Linked DNA regions of Homo sapiens: region 1 is linked to region 2. The links come from fine-mapping of genetic effects on gene expression. Tissue or cell type: whole blood. Region 2 holds a variant in brackets; the other region holds the start of a gene. All regions are shown on one strand. Distances are from middle to middle. Region 1 holds the start of PPP2R5A (protein phosphatase 2 regulatory subunit B'alpha). Region 2 overlaps LINC02608 (long intergenic non-protein coding RNA 2608).

What was found.
Region 1: it holds the start of PPP2R5A, and the variant in region 2 is fine-mapped to the expression of PPP2R5A in whole blood (TOPMed, PIP 0.98).

What each region holds. Positions count from the first base shown.
Region 1 is chr1:212,283,161-212,287,543 of GRCh38, forward strand. It overlaps PPP2R5A (protein phosphatase 2 regulatory subunit B'alpha), which reads left to right and starts at 2,250. Exons shown (of 13, transcript NM_006243.4): 1 at 2,250-3,131. The coding sequence starts at 2,951. It overlaps LINC02608 (long intergenic non-protein coding RNA 2608), which reads right to left and starts at 1,861. Exons shown (of 4, transcript NR_125984.1): 1 at 1,819-1,861. RefSeq lists an enhancer at 1,763-1,842 and a silencer at 2,013-2,982.
Region 2 is chr1:212,253,253-212,257,635 of GRCh38, forward strand. The region is part of intron 1 of LINC02608 (long intergenic non-protein coding RNA 2608); the gene reads right to left. Among named protein-coding and RNA genes, the nearest start is that of LINC02608, 30 kb to the right of the region's middle. RefSeq lists enhancers at 2,925-3,426, 3,040-3,219. The variant A/T (reference allele first, on the strand shown) is at 2,810.

The DNA of each region.
Region 1 (4,383 bases), 30 kb after region 2:
AACAGAGGTGTAAAATAAAATAACTGAGTTCTTGCTCTCTTGGTGTTGACAAACTTTCAGCTGTGAGTGGTGTGGACACTAAATGCAATAGGAATACAAAGAAGGGAGGCATCACTTCTGGCTGGATTGTCAAGCTTCATAAAAGATAGGGGGTTTGAAGAAAAGAAATTTCAAAAAGATGAAAAAAAAATGGGCCGGGCGCGGTGGCTCACGCCTGTAATCCCAGCGCTTTGGGAGGCGGAGGTGGCCGAATCACGAGGTCAGGAGTTCGAGACAAGCCTGGGCAACATGGTGAAACCCCGTCGCTACTAAAAATACAAAAAATTAGCCGGGCGTGGTGGCAGGTGCCTGTAATCCCAGCTACTCGGGAGGCTGAGGCAGGAGAATCGCTTGAACCCGGGAGGCGGAGCATGCAGTGAGCCGAGATTGTGCCACCATTGCACTCCAGCCTGGGTGACAGAGCAAGACTCCGTCTCAAAAAAGAAAAAAAAAAGTGGATTATTTCAAGATGTTGGAACAGCAAAGACTAAGTGTTGAGGATGCATAACTTCTTTTAGGGGATCAGTATGTGGAATGATGTGCCTGAACTAAAAAGAGTTTTTGTGGGCACATGTAGGAATTTACACTTGGAAAGACAGGAGTCAGATCGCAGAGAGTCTTGAATTTGGACTCTATTCTGCAGGTATTGGGTGGTTCCTCAAACACGCAGGTAAGATAAAAGTGATCTTAAAAGATTGATGTGGCAGTGAGTTTGAAAGCCGTGAACTACGTTTGGCGGTCTTTGTACACATTGGGAGAAACGCCAATTGTGAAAGTAGATTTAACATGATCTGGAGCTTGACTATGTGAGAAAGCGAAAAGTGTCAGAAACGCTGCTGAGGTTTGAACCTCCTTGACTGGGAGGATTATGTACAATTTCACCGCCCAGCAAATCTGAAGGAGGAAATGTTTTGAGGATAGTATGTTTGGTTCTAGGTCTAGAATTCAACTTCCTGCCAAATTTGGAATCTTCTGTACATATGCATCAGGTGGCTTCGTTTAAATATACGACAATTACTTTTATTATGTTGAAAGGAAAAGGTCTGGAGCTCGAGGGAGGGGATTACAGATTTGGGTCCATTGGCGCAAAGGGAGGCTGACTGTTCAGATTAATAATTATTAACGGCCACCGTATGGAAAGCACTGCACGAAAAACTAAGATGACCAGTCCTCGTCCTTAAGAAATTCAAAATCTAGACGGAATCTCCAAGAAAGAGATTCCGGTAAGAGTACATGGCAAGCCTCCATATCCACACACCACTGACCAATGAATTTGTACTCTTCTCGTTGGAGTAGTTGAGGGCCTTTGGCTCAAGGAGGGGTGAAAATTAGCAGGATACTAAATTGGGAATGAGAAATCTCTTTTTAGAGGGCGTGGACTTGCAGAACTCTTTGAAGCAGCAGATGCTAGACTGCCCAAACCCCACGCGAGAGTAGCTCTCTGGAGTTGCGGAGTCCGAACCTCCCAAGAGCTACAAATTTATTCCGCAACTACCAATTTTGCGGTTTGGGGCCAGTAAGGCGCCAAGACCCGCCCAGGTGTCCAGACCTCGCAACGATTGGACGAGCTCACCTTCTCGCCTTCCCCGGGCCCCTCGCCCGTCAATCACACTGCTTGCTCGCCACCTGACCTCTGCTGCGCCCCCTTTCAGTGGTGTAACACCTGGCGCTCTTTCGCGCCCCAGCCCTCCGGCGCCCCACCAATCGCTTCAGTTCTTCATTGGCCAGCAGAGAGGTGAGGGAAGGGAAGGGGCGCTCTATTTTGCTCTCTGAACGCACCCTCTCAAGTTTCCCAGTCTTCTCGTAGACGGTCAGGAGAGCAATGACAGCCTGGAGCAGTCGCGCGTGAGCGCAAAAATGCCCGCTGGTGGAGGAGCGCTTCCCCTCCCTCCCAAGCGATTTGCCGCATTTGTTCTGACGCAGGGGCACCCCGCTCGCCGTCTTCACTTACGATTGGCTGTGGCCGAAGCCCGTCACACAGCCCGCCCCACTCCTCTGCCTCAAGAGGCCGCACCTCACGCCGTCGCTGCCGCTTAGCCGTGTGATTGGCTAAGAGGGCTGGCATGCTTTCCCGCCCCCTCCCCCGCCGCCGCACCAAGAGGCGGGCGGGACCCCGCGGAAGTTGTCAGTCAAACTCCTCCTTCCCACCCCTTGCGAGGCCCCTCCCCGGGCCGCGCGCCCTGGCGCGCGCACACGCGCACACACTCCCCAGTCGCCTGTACCAACCACCTTCTCAAGTTGTAGCGGTCGCTCGCCTGGGGTTCTCCGTGGGCGGCCGACGGGCGCGTGGGGGAGGGGGTTCGGGCCGCCCAGCGCGGCAAGGAGCGAGTGTGTGCACGCAGAGGGCCGGGGCTACGGGGCAGCGCCCCGGGCGATGAGGGGCCGGCGTTGACCGGGAAGAGCGGGCACCGCGGCAGTGGCTCCGAGGGGACCCGCGATGGCAGCGCCCTGAGAGGAGGCTCCAGGCAGGGCGGGCTGCGCTGGCAGCGGCCGCTGAGGTGCTGGCCGGCCGGCTGGCTGGCGACGGGGGCAGAAGCGACGAGAGGCGCGCTCGGCACCCGCACCCCCGTGCCCCCGCCTCAGTTGTCTAAACTTCGGGCTCTCTTCCACCCGCTCTGCGCGCCCAGAGTCAACAACTTCTTCACCCCCCTCCGCCCCCGCCCTTCCCTCCGTCAGCCCCGGGAGCTCGCCGCGCGCCGGGGACCAGGAACCTCCAGCGCTGAGATGTGGCCGTGAGGCGTTGGCGGGCGGCGAGGAGAAGCTCGGCGGCGTCCCGGGGCCGGAGGGCCGTGGGGCCGGGGCGCAGGGGCGCGAGCACCCCGCGCCTCTCCCCCGCCTCCTCCTGCCGTCTCCGCCGCTGCCCGTGCCTTGCAAGCAGCAGCCGGAGCTGCCAAGCGTCAGGGCCGCGGAGATGTCGTCGTCGTCGCCGCCGGCGGGGGCTGCCAGCGCCGCCATCTCGGCCTCGGAGAAAGTGGACGGCTTCACCCGGAAATCGGTCCGCAAGGCGCAGAGGCAGAAGCGCTCCCAGGGCTCGTCGCAGTTTCGCAGCCAGGGCAGCCAGGCAGAGCTGCACCCGCTGCCCCAGCTCAAAGGTAACCTCCGAGGGCGCAGCCCCAGCAGCGAGCGCAGGGGCTGGCAACGCTTGCCTCTGCGCCAGCAGAGCCATTTCCTGCTGGGTTTCTCCTGCTCAGTTGGGACTGGTAGTGTGTGAGCCGAGTTCCCCACAATGCCTTGGCGTCACCTCACGCCCTCCTCCTTATTCAAACAGGTTTTCTGTGAAGTCTTGGCTGTTTCCTTCTAATTCCCACCTGAACTCTTTCCATCCTAGGGGAGGCCAACACCCTTCCCCACCTGCGCGCTTGCTTAACCTGCACTTCCTATCTTGCGTCCCGTGAAGTAGAGTCCTTCACTCCTCTTCCAGGTTTGCCCTTTCCCGGTCTTGCTTTAACAACCGCACGAACCTTCCCCGACCTTCACTTTCCCGAGTGTCAGCTCCTCTGTTCGGCCACTTTTAGCTAGTCCTTTACTTTTACAGTTATAAAGCCGTCTGCACCCACCTTCTTCTCAACTTCACTTCCCATTGATTGCCCCTAAGAGTCATCAGACCAGGAATCCGAATGCAAACAACGGTTAAGAGTTAGCTGGCCTTTGGATGTATTTATAAAGAAAAAGCCTAAAATTTGACCAGTGTAGTATCTTATTCACAGGATCGTTAGCTTTAAATGGTATCCTTTAGCTCAAGGAATAGATTTAAAATATTCTGTTGTCTGAGCCGATACACATGGTCTATTTGGAAATACGAAGGAGTAGGTAGTGTTGCTTTGCAGTCGAATGGGAACTTAGTTTGCCAGGCAGTGATTCCAGGGACTTTGTAGGTTTGTACAGGAATTCAAATTGGTATCCGTGCCTAATGCCTTGCAGGAGAACTTGGCACTCTTTTTGGCTCACTTTTCCCACTAGGTTTAGAGGATTTTCGATGTTATTTCCTGGTGTTCTAGTTTATTCTTTGTGTATTACTCATGCTTAATTTTATAATTTTAATGTCCTTGCTTTTTATGAGATAGAAATGTTGGAACAAGATGATAATGCTCCTACATATTTAGATAAAATTTGCAACCTGACGGAAATCCCTATCATCTGATGTTCAGATTTTTCAATTCATTTGAAAAAGCTGCAGCATCCCCTTCAAGGCCAGTCTGGTTCTCATTTGTCTTTGGGCCTGTGAATCCAGCCTTAGTTTGGCAAGGAGTCTAAAGAAAACCCCAGATCAAATCACAGTTGACCTACAACAGCTCCAGAACCCTATTGAGACCCTACCTTGCCCTGACTCTTGGAGTGCTTCTA
Region 2 (4,383 bases):
TAACTTGAGGGGAAAAGTAGAGGAGAGACTACTCTAGCTTAAAAGGAGTTAAAGGGCTGGGTGTGGTGGTTCACACCTGTAATCCCAGCACTTTGGGAGACTGAGGCAGGAGGACTGCTTGAGGACAAGACTTAGAGGCCAGCCTGGGCAACATAGCAAAATCCTGGGACAGACACGGTGGCTCAGGCCTGTAATCCCAGCACTTTGGGAGGCCGAGGCAGGTGGATCACTTCAGGTCAGAAGTTCAAGACCAGCCTGGCCAACATAGAGAAACCCTGTTTCTACTAAAAATATAAAAATTAGCTGGGCTAGGTGGTGTGCACCTGTAATCCCAGCCACTCTGGAGGCTGAGGCAGGAGAATTGCTTGAGCCTGGGAGGCGGAGGCTGCAGTGAGCCGAGATCACGCCACTGCACTCCAGCCTGGGTGACAGAACGAAATCATCTCAAAAAAAAAAAAAACAAAAAAAACCATATCTACAAAAAATACAAAAATTAGCCAGGCATGGTGGTGCATGTCTGTAGTCCAGCTACTCAGGAGGCTGAGGTGGGAGGATCGCTTGAGCCTGGGAGGTTCAGGTTGCAGTGAGCAGTGATTGTGCCACTGCACTCCAGCCTGGGTGACAGAACGAAATCATCTCAAAAAAAAAAAAAAAAAAGATTGAAAAGAGACCTCACAGACATAACCAAGTACAATCCTCCCAAAGTGCTGAGATTACAGGTGTGAGCCACCATGCCCGGGATTACAGGCGCCTGCCACCATACCCGGCTAATTTTTGTATTTTTAGTAGAGACAGGGTTTTGCCATGTTGGCCAGGCTGGTCTGGAGCTCCTGACCTCAGGTGATCTGCCTGCCTTGGCTTCCCAAAGTGCTGGGATTACAGGCATGAGCCACCGCACCTGGTTCTGAAAATGAACTTTTAAAAAGAACAATTTGGGAAACTTCAATATAGACTGTAGATAAGAAGGAATTATCAATTTTTGGCATTGTGGTGATAGAAGAAAATACCCTTTCTAAGATGCATGCTAAAGTATTTGGGAGTAAGTTGACATAACACCTATAATTTGCTTTAAAATGCTTCAGCAGGCTGGGCGCGGTGGCTCACGCCTGTAATCTCAGCATTTTGGGAGGCCGAGGCGGGTGGATCACAAGGTCAGGCAAGTTCAAGACCAGCCTGGCCAACATGGTGAAACCCCATCTCTACTAAAAATACAAAAATCAGCTGGGCATGGTGGCACATTCCTGTAATCCCAGCTACTCGGGAGGCTGAGGCAGGAGAATTGCTTGAACTGGGACCCAGGAGGCAGAGGTTGCAGTGAGCCAAGATCGTGCCACTGCACTCCAGCCTGGGGTACAGTGAGACTCTGTCTCAAAAAAAGAGAAAGAAAAAAAACTTCAGCCAAAAAGCAAAAAGGTGGGGAGGTAAAGGGAGGATAGATTAAATACGTATGGCAAACTTGATGGCTATTGAAACTGGTTGATGGGGTCATAGGGGTTTTTATGTAAGTCTGAAAATTTTTATAATAAAAGTGGTTTGTTTGTTTTTTATTTTTTTTTTAACACACTTGCACATCATCTGTAGCTTGTCTGTTTTTTAATGAATGGCGTAGACACTGATGGTGGAGTTCAGACGAGGGTGTAGTAGCAAAGACTAGAACCACTACAGAAAGATTTGCGGGGGAGATGGAAGTGTGCATTTCCTTCCTCCCTTCCTCCCTCCCTCCCTCTCTCCCTTCCTGTGTTACCATCTCCCATACCAGGTAGGGTGCGGTATTAAAACAGCATGGCAGGAGTGTGGGTATCTTTTGGGGAGGTGGGAGATTGCCTGGGGAAGTTGGTGGCCAGAATGGAGAGGAATGTGGGGAATGCCAGGCTGGGCACCCGGCTGGACCTTGTACTGAAGCCAGTGATGAGGCTTCTGTGCAAAGAGAGTGATGCAACCTGTGTTCCAGGCAGATTAATGTGGATAATGCTGGCGTGAGTCCGAGAGGTCTGGTAAGGGGCTGTTACCCAGGTCCAGGCATGAGGAAGGGATAAAAGCTTGCATTGTACAGAAGTGACAGTGACAAGAGACATTTCAGATGAATCAAGAATCAGCAGAATCTGCTGGTGACCATTTATGAAGCTAGTATGGGTGAGGCAAAGTAGTACTTGAACAATGGGATAAATGGCTGTCCTGTTTAATGGAAATAAGGAAACTGAGATGATTTGGGAGATGAGGATTAGGGGTTGATTTTGAACGTGCAAAATGGGTGGAAACAGAACAACCAAGCTGAGATATTTCAAACAACAGATTGTTCCAAACAATAGGCTATTTCAGGGGTGAGATGAGGAGACTCAGAATCAAATAGATCCACTGGGATGAAATCGTTCACCCCGGCCCCTTTCCCATATAAAACCTGATTGAAGTTTGAGGATGAAGGTCTGAAAATGAATCTGGGAAAGTGAGTGGTCTAGCCAAGATGGAACTATGGGGGAGGGTGAGGAGACAAGTTGGTGTCTCCACAGGTGCTGAAGAAACCTCGCTTTTGACATCCTGCTCTCCTGTGACTTTGCTTCCTGTTGTGATAGGAGAACCTGCCCAGTGTTCCATGGGGCATGGCTCTAGAGTCATTCTGTTTACACCGAGCTGCCTCTCGGTTGGATAACTGTGTGGCTGAAGAACGACACGGAGCATTAAGCTAGGCCCCCGAGAGTGGGGACCAGCTCTATTTCCCCTGTCCCAAGTACACAGGATATAACGTGCCCTCCCTGGAGATGTCCACAGGGTGCTGCTGACCTCCCAGGTCCCTGCCTCACAGAACAGGGGG[A/T]TTCTCTTCCTGTCATGACTATTTAGTTACTGGGCTAACAAACAAGAAAAAGTCACATGGGGCAGGATTTCAAGAGCAGAGTTACTTCAGTTGCCTGTGGAAATAACACCAGGTTGTGCAAGAAGACTTTTAGGCTGAAAAAGGCATGTTAAATCTTGGTCTGATGGTCTGACCATCTGAAAAACACAGCCCGTTTTTTCTTTTTTGGAGCTGCAGATAGGACAATGATGAGACCGTACCTCTCTCATGCCCCACAAAAGACACAAAAAGAGAGAGGCCTGAGTTTTGTGATACCCGAGAAGATTTGCATTGGTTTATCTGAGTCCTCATTTTCAGCAAATGACAGCAAGAGGCCAATAAGACACAAAGGGATTTTTTTTTTCTTTTTTTGCTCAACTGCCTTCCTTCCTGCTAAAAATCTCTCAAGCTCTGCCCATCCCTCTTCTTTACCCCACCCTGTCCCTACCACAAACCCACTTCCTCCTCAAAGTCCCAGCCCTCCCACTAGCACACTCTTTCTCCCCTGCCCCTTCTGCTCCCCTCCCATGGCTGCTAGCTCAGGGGTCATGCCCAGGCAGCCTGATGCAGGCCAGGATTCTCACTTCACTCAGCAGCCCCCAACAAAGCTGGCACTGTCTAACTGGGTCACCTTGGGAGAAGGCAGGCAGGAGTGACTGGGGTTGTGTCCTGAGAGCACGGCCAACATGGCCCTGTCTTGTTGTAATCACTTTCAATATGGCTTCTTATTATCACTATTTACAATATTATGAATGTATGAAGAAGAGCTACCACCAAGTGAGTACCTACTGTCTTCCAAGCATAGTGCTCCACACATTACATGCCTTTTCTCCTTTAATCACCCCGCAAACACATGAAGTAGCAGCTATCACAATACCCTTTTTAAACATGAGGAAATAAGGTTTAGAGAGGTTAAGCAACTTGCCCAAGACCAGGTAGCACCAAGCGGCAGCACTGGGATGCAGATTCAGATGTGCCTAGTTCCCAGCCCCCTCCTCTTAACCATCTTGACATAGGCTTGAGTGGCATTTATCTTGACTTATTCCCACCTAATGAAGTAGGAAGACCATTCAAACAGGAAGCCATCTGGGGTGAGGGGAAGCTGGTCACTGGGGATCTGGGGTCAGACTGCCCAGAAACCATGGGGATCTAGAAATGGTCATCTGCAGAGTAGCCTGCTCTTTCTCAAGGGAGTTGTGGCCAAGCTCTATCTTTGCCAGGCCTCTGGGCTAATATCCTAGTTGGTTTAGTGGTAATAGGGCCAAGGTCACGAATCTGATTCCTTTGTGGGCCAGTGAACTTCCATCCACTCCAGTGTCACAGGCAGCACTCCTAACTTTGACCAACGGTTCTCAACTTCAGACCATTGGATGAGAATAAAAATGGTTTAGGCCGGGCGTGGTGGCTCATGCCTGCAATCCCAGCCTTTGGGAGGCTGAGATAGGGGGAATGCATGAGCCCAGGAGTTTGAGACCAGCCTGGGCAACATAGTGAGACTCCATCTCTGCAAAAAATACTTTTAAAAACAATTAGCTGGGGATGGTGGTGTGCACCTA